Homo sapiens: one gene and its partners. The protein of the gene in region 1 purifies or fractionates together with the protein of each later gene. This does not show direct contact. Each region holds a gene or a part of one and is shown in the gene's direction. Other genes may lie near its edges.

Region 1 (3,532 bases):
TGGACTTACTACCCTGGGCTCAAGCTACCAACCATCCAGAGCTCTGGATAGAGGCCACAGAACTCCATGAACTTGATCTTGAAGCCCCTCCCCAATCCCTTCCCTTACTCAATCCTCAGATGTCCCAGACTCCAGATCTCAGACACCCGCTACTATGCACCCCTCCTTCACTTCTAAAACCCCATGCCTCGACCGCGGGCTCCCCCCAGGATGTCCTTCCAGACCTCAGCCCCTGTCCTATCCCCAGGTGTTGGAGACGGTGGAGAGGCTGGGCGAGGCGGTGAGGACAGAGCTGACCACCCTGGAGGAGGTGCTCGAGCCGCGCACGGAGCTGGTGGCTGCCGCCCGAGGGGCTCGACGGCAGGCGGAGGCTGCGGCCCAGCAGCTGCAGGGGCTGGCCTTCTGGCAGGGAGTGCCCCTGAGCCCCCTGCAGGTGGCTGAAAATGTGTCCTTTGTGGAGGAGTACAGGTGAGACGCTGCTCTTCTTGCTCTCTGTGCCGGCAGCTCTCAGGCGGAGTCCCCGGGGGGACAGTTGGCAATGCCTGGAGGCAGTTTTGGTTGTGACAGCTGGGGAGTGTGTGCGCACTGCTGGCATCCAATGGGTAGAGCCCAGGAACTGTTCAACACCCTGCAATGCACAAGAACCCCCTCCCCACCCATTGGCAGGGAATGATCCAGCCACCATGACAATTATGACGAGGCTGGCCAGGCGCGGTGGCTCAGGCCTGTAATCCCAGCACTTTTAGGAGGCCAAGGTGGGTGGATCACCTGAGGTCAGGAGTTTGAGACCAGCCTGGCCAACGTGGAGAAACCCCGTCTCTACCAAAAATACAAAAATTAGCTGGGCGTGGCGGCAGATGTCTGTAATGCCAGCTACTCAGGAGGCTGAGGCAGGAGAATCCCTTGAACCCGGGAAATGGAGGTTGCAGTGAGCCGAGATTTCACCATTGCACTCCAGCCTGGGCGATAGAGTGAGACTCCATCTCAAAAAAAAAAAAAAAAAAAAAAAGATGAGGTTGAGAAACCTACTGTGGAGGGACAGATCACCAGACCCCATGGCCATCCTGACACCCATGTCCTCACCCATTCACTCACTCACCCCCTCCACGTCACTCCACTCACTTATTCACACATGCGTTCATTCCTTGACTCACTCATTCAGCAAGTCACTCTTGGACTCAGTTACTCCTGGACTAACCCAGCAGGCCACTCACTCAGTCGTTCATCCGTGTGACATGTGTATTTGTTCAGCACTATTTTTTTTTTTTTTTTTGAGATGGAGTCTCACTCTGTCGCCCAGGCTAGAGTGCAGCGGTGCGATCTCGACTCACTGCAACCTCCGCCTCCTGGATTCAAGCGATTCTCCTGCCGCAGCCTCCCAAGTAGCTGGCATTACAGGCAGGCGCCACCACGCCCGGCTAATTTTTGTATTTTTAGTAGAAACGGGGTTTCACCATGTTAGCCAGGCTGGTCTCAAACTCCTGACCTTGTGATCTGCCCGCCTTGGCCTCTCAAAGTGTTGTTCAGCACTATTTATTTAGCACCCTCTGGTGAAAGAGGCAGCGTACCTACAGATCAGGAACCTGAGCTCGAAAGCCAGCCAGCCCCACCCTAACCACGCGGCTGCAATCAAGTTACTTTGCAGACCTCTGCCTTGGTTTCCCCATCTGTGAAATGGGAATCGGGGCAGCGTCCCCCTTGTTGAATTGGTTCGAGTTGTTGAGTTGGCATCTGAGTGCTGAGAAGGACGATTAGCACAGGGAGAGCACCGCAGAGATATGAAGTGTAGTCACCCCGGTGGCGGGCCGGGCAGTGAGCAAGTGGCAGAAATCCCTGCCACGTGGCTGCGTCCTCCGGGGGGAACCAGCAAGGGACAAACGCAGAGAAAAACATTGTAAGGTGTTGGGCCATGAGAACTTTGGAGAAAATTACAGAGGGGACCAGGCACGGTGGTTCACGCCTGTAATCCCAGCACTTTGGGAAGCCGAGGCAGGCGGATCACGAGGTCAAGAGATCGAGACCATCCTGGCTAACACGGTGAAATCCCGTCGCTACTAAAAATACAAAAATTAGCCGGGCGTGGTGGTGGGCGCCTGTAGTCCCAGCTACTTGGGAGGCTGAGACAGGAGAATCGCTTGAACCCAGGAAGTGGAGCTTGCAGTGAGCAGAGATCGTGCCACTGCACTCCAGCCTGGGTGACGGAGCGAGAATCCGTCTTAAAAAAAAAAAAAGAAAATTATAGAGGGAGATGAGGTGGGACAGAGTCTGGCAGTTCATCAGGGGGACTGAGAAGGTGGCATTTGGAGGAGAGGAGGCAGTGAGCTGTGCAGTGTCCAGGCAGCCACCCTTCCCAGCGGCCACCATGACGGTGTCCTCATTGCTTTGACCATTAGTAATCATTCATTCATTCATTCATTTATCCGACGTCAGCTGGAGGCCCTGCCCGCGGGGCATGCGCTGAGATTTGGGAGGCCTTCCGGGATGCTGCGCTCCAGCGGGGAAGGCCGACTGGGGCTGAAAAAGCTGGAGGTCAGGACACACCCGCAGGGCAGCAGGTGCAAGAGACAGACAGGCCTGGGTTTGAAGAAGTCCAGGTTCTGCATTGTGGTCAGGCCCAGGGGCTGCACAAGCCGGGCCTCAGCTCCTTCTCCTGGGCGAGGGCAGGGAAGTGGTGGGAGCCATAAGGGTGATGCCAGGGTGAGGCAGACCCACCATCACTAGAAAATATCTTCCGGGTGCACCACTGCGAAAGCACCCCACACTTGGGAGTCCCTCGACAGACAAATCAGGGGCCTCCAAGGGAGTCTTGCTGGAGGGGAGCACTTGCGAGGCTGGGCGGAAGCAGCCAGAGACCAGGGTAAGGAGTGAAGCCCAAGCTTGTGGGGCCTGCAGAGAATGGCAGGAGGATTAACTGAGCACTTACTACGTGCCGGGCACTGTGCTGTTGTTACGGCGGGTCCTTGCTCCCGGAGCTCCCAAGATCGTGGTGGCCACTTCCAAGAGGGCAGCAAGCCTCGTGTTCTCTGACCTGGGGTTCTTGGCCTCACGGATTCCAAGGAATGGAATCCTGGGCCCTGCGGTGAGTGTTTTAGCTCTATTAGAAGCCGTGGGTCACGGAAGAGAACCGTGGAACCCAGCGACCAGTGTTCAGCTCGATCAGGATGAACCCAGGCAGTTAGCTGTGCAGGAACAATGGCGAGCCTCTAGCCCGATTGGGAGCGGCAATGGGTGTCTCCCTGGATCACGAGCACAGTGGACACCCTGCCGGATCCGGAGGGTGGAAGTCAGCGGCGGGTCTGCGACGGCGGCAAACAGCAGTGGTGGACGGCGAGCGAAAGCTCAGCTCAAGCCGTAACAGACACGGACCAGAAGAGTGTGCAGTTTCAAGTTTTAATAGAGTGAAAACAGAGTTCCCATACAACGGGAGGGGACCCAAAGTGGGTAGCCGTTGCTGGCTGGAATGCCTGGGTTTCTATCCAGATCATTGTCCCTTCCCCTGTGCTCTCAGGTGATAGATGATTGGCTATTTCTT
Region 2 (3,532 bases), on another chromosome or scaffold:
TCTTCAGTCACAGTGCTGCTAAGCCCTCATTGACCATCACACACTCCCAACCCCGCCCTCAAGTTAAGCTCTCCTTCCTCTGTGTTCTTAAAGCACTTTGTTCAGCCTGCTAACATAGTACCAATCACACAGTGTTAGAGTTCCAGGGATATATGTCAGTCTCCCCTGCAAGACTATGGACTGTCTGGGAATAAGAACTTGGTCTTACTAATTTTGTGTCCCAGGGTTCTGGCACAGTCCTTGCTTCAGAACAAGTGCTCAACAAATGTCTTTTGAAGAGAGGATTCTCAGGAGTAGAAAACAATGAAAATGCTGAGGATTGTGAATAACAACAGCAGGGTTAGTGTCCTAGCTCACCCTTAGGGACCTGGTCTCTGCCCCCTATTTCTGTACGGCAAAGTCCTAATGTTCTCTCAAGGTGCATTAGGAAGTTGGTGAGCAATGACTCTGGGATATAAGAGGAAATTAAACAGGAAGAGGAAATTCCAATTTATTGAAAAACACTGAGGATTCAGGAAATACTCTACCCCATTGCTAAACTAGATTTTACAAGAATCAAAAATCAGGAAAGAATTTTAGAGCAGGATAAAGGCCTCATATTAAAAGGCAGTATATAGGCCAGGCATGGTAGCTCATGCCTATAGTCCTAGCACTTTGGGAGGCCGAGGCAGGAGGATCACTTGAGTCCAGGAGTTTGAGACCAGCCTGGGAACCCCATCTCTAGAAAAAGTATAAAAATAAGCCAGGTGTGGCAGCACATGCCTGTGGTTTCAGCTACTCAGGAGGTCGAGCCTGGGAGATCAAGGCTGCAGTGAGCTGTGATCACTCCACTGCACTCCAGCCTGGGCCACAGAGCGAGATCCTGTCTCAATAAAAAGGCAGTATATACATGGATCCAAATCAGGTGAAAGCCAGTGTATGTCCTGAAAATCCCCATTGTCTGGGTCCTGGGAGGGCTTTGACTTTGTTGCTTTCTGCAAGAACTGGATGAAAATCTGCATTTCACATTCTTCAAACACCCGCCTGCCCCACATCTTCCTCTGTGGCAGTAAGATGCTGGAATTATACAAAGAGCTCATGGTAAGGATTGCACCAGAGGTAGTTTCTCAGCTTTTGTCCCCATCCCCATGAGGCCTAGTTCAGAGCTTCGGCACTCTCCAGGTATAAATAAAAATCCAGTGAGTGGCCAGGTGTGGTGGCTCATGCCTGTAATCCCAGCACTTTGGGAGGCCAAGGAGGATGGATCACCTGAGGTCCGGAGTTCGAGACCAACCTGGCCAACATGGCGAAACCCCTTCTCTACTAAAAATACAAAAATTAGCTGGGTGTGGTGGTGCGCACCTGTAATTCCAGCTACTTGGGAGGCTGAGGCAGGAGAATCTCTTGAACCCGGGAGGCGGAGGTTGCAGTCTGCTGAGATCGTGCCACTGCACTTCAGCCTGGGTGACAGAGCGAGACTCCATCTAAAAAAAAAAAAAAAAAAAAAAAATCCAGTGAGTAAGCATGATGCGTGTACCCACAAGTTCCAAATGGCAGTTATCAGCACAAACCCCTTAAAAATCTATTTCTGGCATTTAAGTACAGCGGCTATGCAGAGCCTCCACACAACCCAAGTGCCATTTGAGAACAAGCAGCATCTGCCCTCCGAATCCAGCAGCAAGTGCAGCCAACAAGGTTAAATTTAGCACTTGGAGGTTGTAAAAATAAACCCACTTGAGAACAAAGTTCACTCTTGGCAAAATACCAAATGCAAACTGTTTTTAGCAAGGTTAGCCATTGACTTTTTAAATCTTTGTTTGGTTCATTTATTTTTCTCTGCTCTTCCTTAGAATGTTTAATCTGGGTGAAAATTTTTTTTTTTTTTTTTTTTGACAGAGTCTCGCTCTCTCGCTCAGGCTGGAGTGCAGTCATGCAATCTCGGCGCACTGCAACCTCCACCTCCCAGGTTCAAGCGATTCTCCTGCCTCAGCCTCCTGAGTAGTTGGGACTATAGGTGCATGCCACCGTGCCTGGCTAATTTTTGTAGTTTTTAGTAGAGACGGGGTTTCAAGGATGTTGGTCAGGCTGGTCTCGAACTCCTGACCTCAGGTAATCCGCCCACCTCGGCCTCCGAAGTGCTGGGATTACAGGCGTGAGCCACCACACCCGGCCAATCTGGGCAAACCTTTATGAGTAATCCCTTACTATAAACACTAATTGTCCTGTTTACTTCTTCGCAGCTGCATCTAGATAGTAAGCCTGATGCCAGGGCAAGTGGCCACACCACTAGGCTGGGCTGGACGAAGGTAGCAGGCAGGAACTGCCTCTTGGCCTAGCTGAGCTGAGCTGAGCTCCTGGCCCAGACTGGTAGAGGAGCACTTCTTTCCACACCCTTGAGCAGGATAACCTAGTGGGTAGAAGCTTAGGCTTTGAAATGGGGATAGAATCCACTTCCTCCTAGAGAGGTTGTGTGGGTTATGGAAGATGGTATGGGTGTAACTCTTAGCACAGTGTCTGGCACATAGAAAGTGCCTAATTTCTGGTGGAGTCCTGGCTTTACCTGGCTTTGCACTGTAGACTGGATGTAGCACCATCTCATGGGGCTGGATCATGAGGGCAGTTGGGATCTGTTGCGGTCTTTCAGCTGTTGAGACCAATCTGGGCTCTTTTGCAGAGAACCTTAGGAGAGGTTCTGGGTCTTGCTTCTCTTGGCAATTTGCCTGAGTCAGTTTATCTTTAAGGCTCAATGCTCTGTCCATCTGTTACAGTGGCATTCAGAGGAAGGGGAACTTTCTGCTAAGAAGAAAAGGTATTCTCTGGAACCTGCCACTCCCCAAAATTTTTTTTAATTACTTAGAATTTATTGAATATTAACAGAATTTGTCAAAAGTAGCATATTCTTCAAGTTGACCCTTTGTTCATTGAAGGATGAAAGGATTCACTGGCAGTTTGGAGAGAAGTTGCTTTAAGCTTGGTAGTGGGGATGTGGGACATGATTCCTTGAAACACTGACCTTGTACAAGGTCATTGCTCTGGAGCAGGGGTCTCTGAGCTGGTTTCAGTGAACTTTATGAAAAGCAATGTGATATTTTGAGAAAAGCAGTTATCTTTCATCAGCTTGTTGAAGTGGCCTTCAATGTAGAAAATATAAAGAGTCACTAGCCCTTAATGTTTCCTGGAACAAGATTTCAGGGAATGAAGCATTTAGAAAAGCTGAGCAAATGGAAAACCTGAGGAAATCATTTCAAAGAAAAGCAAAACCACAGAATCTGTTTCAATACTGGTGTAACTGTGACTCCAGAGGACTAAAGGCATAGACTGACTTCACAGAGGCCTCCTGGGCAAGGTTACCCACATGCCAAAGTAGCCTGAGATTGGAGTTAGTGCCGAGCCCTGGGCAGGATGCAGGAGCAGAGAGCTTTCATTTGGATATGGCCCATGATCCTCCATGACGCCCCATCACCTGCAAGGGTGACTGTGCCAAGGCAAGCCCTGGCTAGCAGGCGCTGCAGGCACCCTCACCAAGCAGGGAGAGCGCATTGTTCTGGAGCCT
Region 3 (3,532 bases), on another chromosome or scaffold:
CCACTGCACTTCAGCCTGGGTGACAGAGTGAGACCCTGTATCTAAAAAAAGCAAAATTTACTTTTCTGATGAATTTGTATGTTTTCATGTGGGCAGTGAAAACTATGTGATATGGTTTGGCCGTGACCCCACCCAAACCTCAAGTTGAATTTTATCTCCCAGAATGCCCACATGTTGTGGGAGGGATCCAGGGGGAGGTAATTGAATCATGGGGGCCAATCTTTCCCATGCTATTCTCGTGATAGTGAGTAAGTTCACGAGATCTGATGGGGTTTATCAGGGGTTTCTGCTTTTGCTTCTTTCTGATTTTTCTCTTGCTGCCACCATGTAAGAAGTGCCTTATGCCTCCCGCCATGATTCTGAGGCCTCATAGCCATGTGGAACTGTAAATCCAATTAAACCTATTTTTGTTCCCAGTTTCGAGTATGTCTTTATCAGCAGCGTGAAAATGAACTTGGTACCATAAATTAGTACCAGTAGAGTGGGGTGCTGCTGAAGAGATACCCAAAAATGTGGAAGCGACTTTGGAACTGGGCAACAGGCAGAGGCTGGAACAGTTTGGAGGGCTCAGAAGAAGCCAGGAAAATGTGGGAAAGTTTGGAACATCCTAGAGACTTGTTGAATGGCTTTGAACAAAATGCGGATAGTGATATGGACAACGAAATCCAGGCTGAGGTGGTCTCAGATGGAGATGAAGAACTTGTTGGGAACTGGAGAAAGGTGACTCCTCTTATGTTTTAGCAAAGGTACTAGAGGCATTTTGCCCCTGCCCTAGAGATTTGTGGAACTTTGAACTTGAAAGAGATGATTTAGGGTATCTGGTGTAAGAAATTTCTAAGCAGCAAAGAATTCAAGAAGTGACTTGGGTGCTCTTAAAAGCATTCCATTTTAAAAGCGGAACAGAGCATAAAAGTTCAGAAAATTTGCAGCCTGACAATGCAGTAGAAAAGAAAGACCCATTTTTTTAGGAGAAATTCAAGCTGGCTGCAGAAATTTTCAAAAGTAGCAAGGAGCCTAATGTTAATCCTGAAGACCATGGGGGAAAATGTCTCCAGGCAATGTCGGAGACCTTCATGGCAGCCTCTCTCATGGCAGGCCTGGAGGCCCAGGAGGAAAAAGTGGTTTTGTGGGCCAGGTGCAGGGGCCCTGTGCTGTGTGCAGCCTAGGGACTTGGTACCCTGTGTCCCAGCTGCTCCAGCCGTGGCTGAAAGGGGCCAATGCAGAGCTAGTGCTGTGGCTTCAGAGGGTGAAAGCCCCAAGCCATGGTAGCTTCACATGGTGTTGAGCCTGCGGGTGCACAGAAGTCAAGAATGGAAATTTGGGAACCTCTACCTAGATTGCAGAAGATGTATAGAAACGCCTGGATGCCCAGGCAAAAGTTTGCCACCGGGGCAGGGCCCTCATGGAGAACCTCTGCCAGGGCAGTGCAGAAGGGAAATGTGGGGTTGGAGCCCCCACACAGAGTCCCTACTGGGGCACTGCCTAGTGGAGCTGCGAGAAGAGGGCCACCGTCCTCCATACCCCAGAGTGGTAGATCCACTGACAGCTTGCACCGTGTGCCTGGAAAAACCTCAGACACTCAACGCCGGCCCATGAAAGCAGCCAGGAGGGAGGCTGTACCCTGCAAATCTACAGGGGCAGAGCTGCTCAAGACCATGGGAACCCACCTCTTGCTTAAGCATGACCTGGATGTGAGACCTGGAGTCAAAGGAGGTCATTTTGGAGCTTTAAAAATTTGACTGCCCCACTGGATTTTGGACTTGCATGGGCCCTGTAACCCCCTTGTTTTGGCCAATTTCTCCCATTTGGAACAGCTGTACTTACCCAATACCTGTACTCCCATTGTATCTGGGAAGTAACTAGCTTACTTTTGATTTTACAGGCTCATAGGCAGAAGGGACTTGCCTTGTCTCGGATGAGACTTTGGACTGTGGACATATGGGTTAATGCTGAAATGAGTTAAGACTTTGGGGGACTGTTGGGAAGGCATAATTGGTTTTGAAATGTGATGACGTGAGATTTGGAGGGGCCAGGGCAGAATGATATGGTTTGGCCATGTCCCCACCCAAATCTCAGTTTGAATTGTGTCTCCCAGAATTCCCATGTGTTGTGGAAGGGACCCAGGGGAAGGTAATTGAATCATGGGGGCCGGTCTTTCCCATGCTATTCTCATAATAATGAATAAGTCTCATGAGATCTGATGGGTTTATCAGGGGTTTCCGCTTTTGCTGCTTCCTCGTTTTTCTCTTGCCCACTGCCCTGTAAGAAGTGCCTTACACCTCCTGCCGTGATTCTGAGGTCTCCCCAGCCATATGGAACTGTAAGTCCAATTAAATCTCTTTTTGTTCCCCGTTTTGGGTACGTCTTTATCAGCAGTGTGAAAACGAAGTAATACACTGTGTAACTACACAAAACATCCCCTATTTGCCTAGGCTACTGAGCAGCCCAGAGCCCAGTCTGCTATTCACTACTATGTATGTAAATACAGCCTGCATACCTGTGTCCATCATCAACCACCATCCCAACATACACACCATCTTTATTCTATTTTCACTGGTCCTGACTTTTTATTATTTAACTTTTGGCATTTTATTGTTTTTAAATCTTATAAGCCCTCCTCAAATCCTTTATAAAGGATAGGCAGAGTATGAAAAATATTAAGTTAGATTCCAACTGTATTGGCAACCCTAAAAGAAAAGCACCTTGGCATTTTATTTTAACACATTTTAAGCAACATCTGAAGACGTAATAAACTTTTGCATCCGTCATATATTCATTGGATGCCTTCTCTGTGCCAGGCATCGTACTTGGCATTGGGGACATGGTATGAGCAAGCCTGGGCCCTTGCTTTTGCAGAGCTTCAATCGACCTGACAGCAATGGAGAACCTTTTAACAGTCACTTTGTGAATGAGTTTACTAATGAGTATTAAGTAGAACATTAGTGGGTTTTTGGCAGCTCATTCAGAGGTACATAAGGGAAGGTAGTAGTATTAGATCATGTAAATAGAGCAAATACAGAACTGGAAATAGAAGTGGAGAAATCTAAGTTCCATTCCTTTATCCCAGAAATTGTTCTACTTGAGGTGAAGTGATGGAATGAAAAAGATTTACTATCTTACCAGACTTTAGTGGAATATTGATCGTTCAAAAGACATATTTTTTTTGGCATCTGACCCTCAAAATGACAGTATATAACACATTCTTAATCATGTCTTGTTTAGATTAATAGTTAAATTTGTTTTAATCCCATAACATATATACTAAGTCAGGAGAAAGGGGGTTCAATGTTGATTTTTACTGCTGATTAAAGTATGTTCAATTGGTAACATGCTACAGGAATTGGAACTAAAGGGGACTTATCCTTTCAATGTTGGATATTTAGCAGCATTAGAATTTTCATACTTGAGTATTTTGTTAGCAGACTCGTTAAAGACAATTCTCTCTTTGTTACTAATATATAAAGTAGATATGTAAAAGCAGACTTTAATTTGTAATTTTTTTAATGTATATATCACATTGATTCTCAACTTT
Region 4 (3,532 bases), on another chromosome or scaffold:
TTATTACCATAGTGTCGTAGTGGTTAAAGCCCAGACTCTGGAGCTAGACTGCACTTGAATCCTGACTCTGCCCCTTTTATCTGTGTGGCCTTAACTAAGTTACTTAACCTCTCTGTGCCTCCATTTCTTCATCTGTAAAATTAGGTTTTCAATAATATCTACCTCATAGGATTGTTATGAGGGTTAAATGAATTAGAACATGTGAAATGCTTAGAACAGTGCCTAGTCATAGCAGGTGCTTGGTGAATATTACCTATTGCCATTACAATTACTAGTGAAAGTAATTTCATTCAATAAAGAAGAATGGGAAGAAAGCTGGATTGCAGTCAGTTAAGGAATGAACTGGAGGTGAAGAAAAGGTGACAATAACTATAAACTTCTTTTAAGAAGCCTGGCTATTAAGGAGGAAATAGATGGGGGTTGGTAACTAGACGTAAACTCGAAGCCAAGAACAGAATTTCTCTTAGAAAAGAGAATTGAAACTAAAGAGAAAGAACTAGCAAAGAAGGAAATATTGAATATACAAGAGAGAGGAGACAGATGATGGAACAAGACTCTGAAAGAGGTGGAAGGGATTGAATACAATCAAAAGTATGGTGACTGCTAGTTCCAAGATGGTGGCGTAGGGGCAAGCTGGCTTTGCTTACCCCCCTGGCAGAAAACCAAAAACAAATAGCACCAAGATTATCACTAGCAATATCCCAGAACTCACATATAAGGATGAGACAGTTCCCAGGGCCCAGAGAAGATCAGAAGCACAAGTGGAGAAGTCAGCTTTGGATGCTACTTTGTTCTAAGGGAGACAAGTTGGGAGGATGATTGCAGATGTATATTCAATGTTATAAAACAGCCCATAAAACAAAGATTGGAAAATGTTGAATTTTGCAACCAGGAGAAAATTCATGACCATAGTGTAGAGTGAAGGTAGTTTATGGCTAATAGCTATGTCTTTTATAATAAGGACATTGGCAAAGGAGAAGGACAAAGGTAGGAAAAATAAAGAGTAACTGCCGAAGACAATGGAGAGAGATGGCTGACCAAGGGCAAGATAAGGATTAGTCAATAGTGTGAGAGCTCTCTTAGGACTGGAGACCATACATTTGTAATGGCTCCAAAATCAGTACGCATTCTAGCAATTTGAGGCAGCAAAACATGGGCACAGGGAAGGCAGAGTGTTAGACTGATCCAGAGTTGGGAATTTGTAGGATTAGCGCTTCAGAAGGAAGATAGTAGGAGATTGAGGCTCCTGGTGAGAGAATTTGAAGCCAGCAAGCCTGGAGTCCAAGCTAGGTGAAGAATGGAGAAGCAGAAGACCAGAGGTTGCACTGACCTCTAAAACGAGTGTAGTGGAAATAGAAAGACTAGGAATGGAGGCCAGTAGTCAGAAAAGGAATATTGGAATTTTCAGTTTTGAAGCTGACAGAATTCCTGAATTATAGCTCTGGCATTTGACCATAGGAGTGGATGGCTGTAGTGAATTCTATCCTAGAAATAGAAAGTGAAAACCAGTTAAAACCATTCTTTTTCTGCAATGCCAAACTTACTGAGTTATTCTTCAGCATTGCTTTCTCTCATTTATCCCAAATACATCAACCAGCAGTATTTATTTTAACTGCTAAGTTGATTTTCAGCATTCTCACGTGATATGAAACAATTGATAATTAGGATACAATTTATAATCCGAAACTGATGTGTTTGCCTTTGAATTACTCATTCATCTATAAGTTTAGTCCTTTTATTAGATGAATTCTGTGTTTATTGGATGCAAAAAAGAATAAGACAAAAGCAAAAGAGTATCACCTTAGGGGAAATACATATATATCAAAGATAATTAGCACAAAGTAGTTCCTGCTATTTATACTTTTCCAGCAGATTTACTTTCTTAGTTTTTTTTTTTTTGGCCGATGCTTTTACTAAAAGTACTTTGCTTTGTTAGCATTCATGCTACCAAGAGTAAACAGTCAATGATTGTTATTTATAATTATTGTTGTTATTATTTTACTGCTATCACCCAATAAAAGAGATCACTCTGAAGCATATGGGACAGGAGGAAAATCAGTAAACTTTTAGTATATTTATTATAAATCATCTACACATTAATAATTAAAAGTTGGCTTGTATGAGTTAGTTATGTGTAATGGTTAATGTTTTAAATAATGTTTCCTTTTGCAGTACAGATGAGAGCCATTTTGTCTATATTACCTGGCATTAATGTGCCTTGATGTTTTTAGGGATCTTATCCATAGAACAGCTCATCAGCCGGGTTGGTGTGATTGGAGTGACTCTCATGGCTCTTCTTTCTGGATTTGGTGCTGTCAACTGCCCATACACTTACATGTCTTACTTCCTCAGGTAACAGAGCGCTTTGCATCCTTTCTTTTTTGCCCCATTACTTCTTGAATACATATGTCATATTATGCCACCATCTTTAAGATTATATATTAGATCTATGACACTGTCTTTTTATTCTTCTCTTCCTCTGTCCCTGTGGGCATTGACCTGGAAATCTTTCTAAATAAGTATTATCACTTGTACGGCTTGCCTTTATTATTTGTCCTACATTCATTTATTTTTTAAATGGCAAATTTCAATCTGACACTCCCCTCCCACTTTTTTAAAGGCACATTTCTAGTGACCAGCAGTATAAACCAACTCCAACTTCAGCAGTTCAGCTCCCCTCCTAGATATTAACAGAACAGTAGAAGACAATGCCAAGTTAAAAGTGTGCTTAAACATACATCCTAAATGTCACTGAGCTGAGATCATGCCACTGCACTCCAGCCTCGGCGACAGAGCTAGACTCTTTCATAAATAAATGACGGGTTGATGGGTGCAGCAAACCATCATGGCACGTGTATACCTATGTAACAAACCTGCATGTTCTACACATGTATCCGAGAACTTAAAGTATAATAAAAAATAAAATAAAAATATTTAAATATATATTTTATATATATATATAAATGTAACTGGATCAAAGCTAAGAAAAACTGTAAGAGAGCTGGGTGAATTCCATTTCCCTGAGATCCCAGAGGATTAGCTATAAGAAATGAGAGCAAAGGCATTTTAGTTTATTATGGTCATTTTACTATTTTCTAGAAAAAAGTAGTAGGTAACAGTTGAAGTCTATGTTTGTCTCCAGATACCCTGTATCATGCCCAAGAGTGGGACCCCAAAACATTTTGCTAGCAGTTTGTGCTTTTTGTAGGAATGTGACTGACACGGATATTCTAGCCCTGGAACGGCGACTGCTGCAAACCATGGATATGATCATAAGCAAAAAGAAAAGGTAAGATATCAACACTGTAATACATTTGGACTCTTACAATTTCTCAACAAGAAAATTTGACTGTGAATTGGTGCTGGCAGGGAATTTTATCTTATTCATTTTTACTATAAGGTAAAGTACCAGATTTAGTGTTGGCTGGACACAGTGGCTCACACCTGTGATCCCAGCACTTTGGGAGGCCACGACGGGGGGATCATTTGAGCCCAGAAGTTCGAGACTAGCCTGGGTAACATAGTGAGACCC

What was found. The genes of interacting proteins can lie anywhere in the genome.
Region 2: the proteins of TTYH1 (region 1) and DNAJC18 purify together in Homo sapiens (affinity purification with mass spectrometry; one large-scale study listed by BioGRID and IntAct). This does not show direct contact.
Region 3: the proteins of TTYH1 (region 1) and ALG11 purify together in Homo sapiens (affinity purification with mass spectrometry; one large-scale study listed by BioGRID and IntAct). This does not show direct contact.
Region 4: the proteins of TTYH1 (region 1) and GPR89A purify together in Homo sapiens (affinity purification with mass spectrometry, with the first as the bait; one large-scale study listed by BioGRID). This does not show direct contact.

What each region holds. Positions count from the first base shown.
Region 1 is NC_000019.10:54,421,943-54,425,474, forward strand, and holds part of TTYH1 (protein tweety homolog 1), read left to right. Parts: intron 1-247; coding exon 248-468; intron 469-3,532. UniProt on the Homo sapiens protein: Calcium-independent, swelling-dependent volume-regulated anion channel (VRAC-swell) which plays a pivotal role in the process of regulatory volume decrease (RVD) in the brain through the efflux of anions like chloride and organic osmolytes like glutamate.
Region 2 is NC_000005.10:139,415,526-139,419,057, reverse strand, and holds part of DNAJC18 (dnaJ homolog subfamily C member 18), read left to right. Parts: intron 1-465; exon of another isoform or gene 466-1,056; intron 1,057-1,341; exon of another isoform or gene 1,342-1,463; intron 1,464-3,532.
Region 3 is NC_000013.11:52,015,366-52,018,897, forward strand, and holds part of ALG11 (GDP-Man:Man(3)GlcNAc(2)-PP-Dol alpha-1,2-mannosyltransferase), read left to right. Parts: intron 1-3,532. UniProt on the Homo sapiens protein: GDP-Man:Man(3)GlcNAc(2)-PP-Dol alpha-1,2-mannosyltransferase that operates in the biosynthetic pathway of dolichol-linked oligosaccharides, the glycan precursors employed in protein asparagine (N)-glycosylation.
Region 4 is NC_000001.11:145,628,456-145,631,987, forward strand, and holds part of GPR89A (Golgi pH regulator A), read left to right. Parts: intron 1-2,231; coding exon 2,232-2,352; intron 2,353-3,208; coding exon 3,209-3,289; intron 3,290-3,532. UniProt on the Homo sapiens protein: Voltage-gated channel that enables the transfer of anions such as iodide, chloride, bromide and fluoride which may function in counter-ion conductance and participates in Golgi acidification.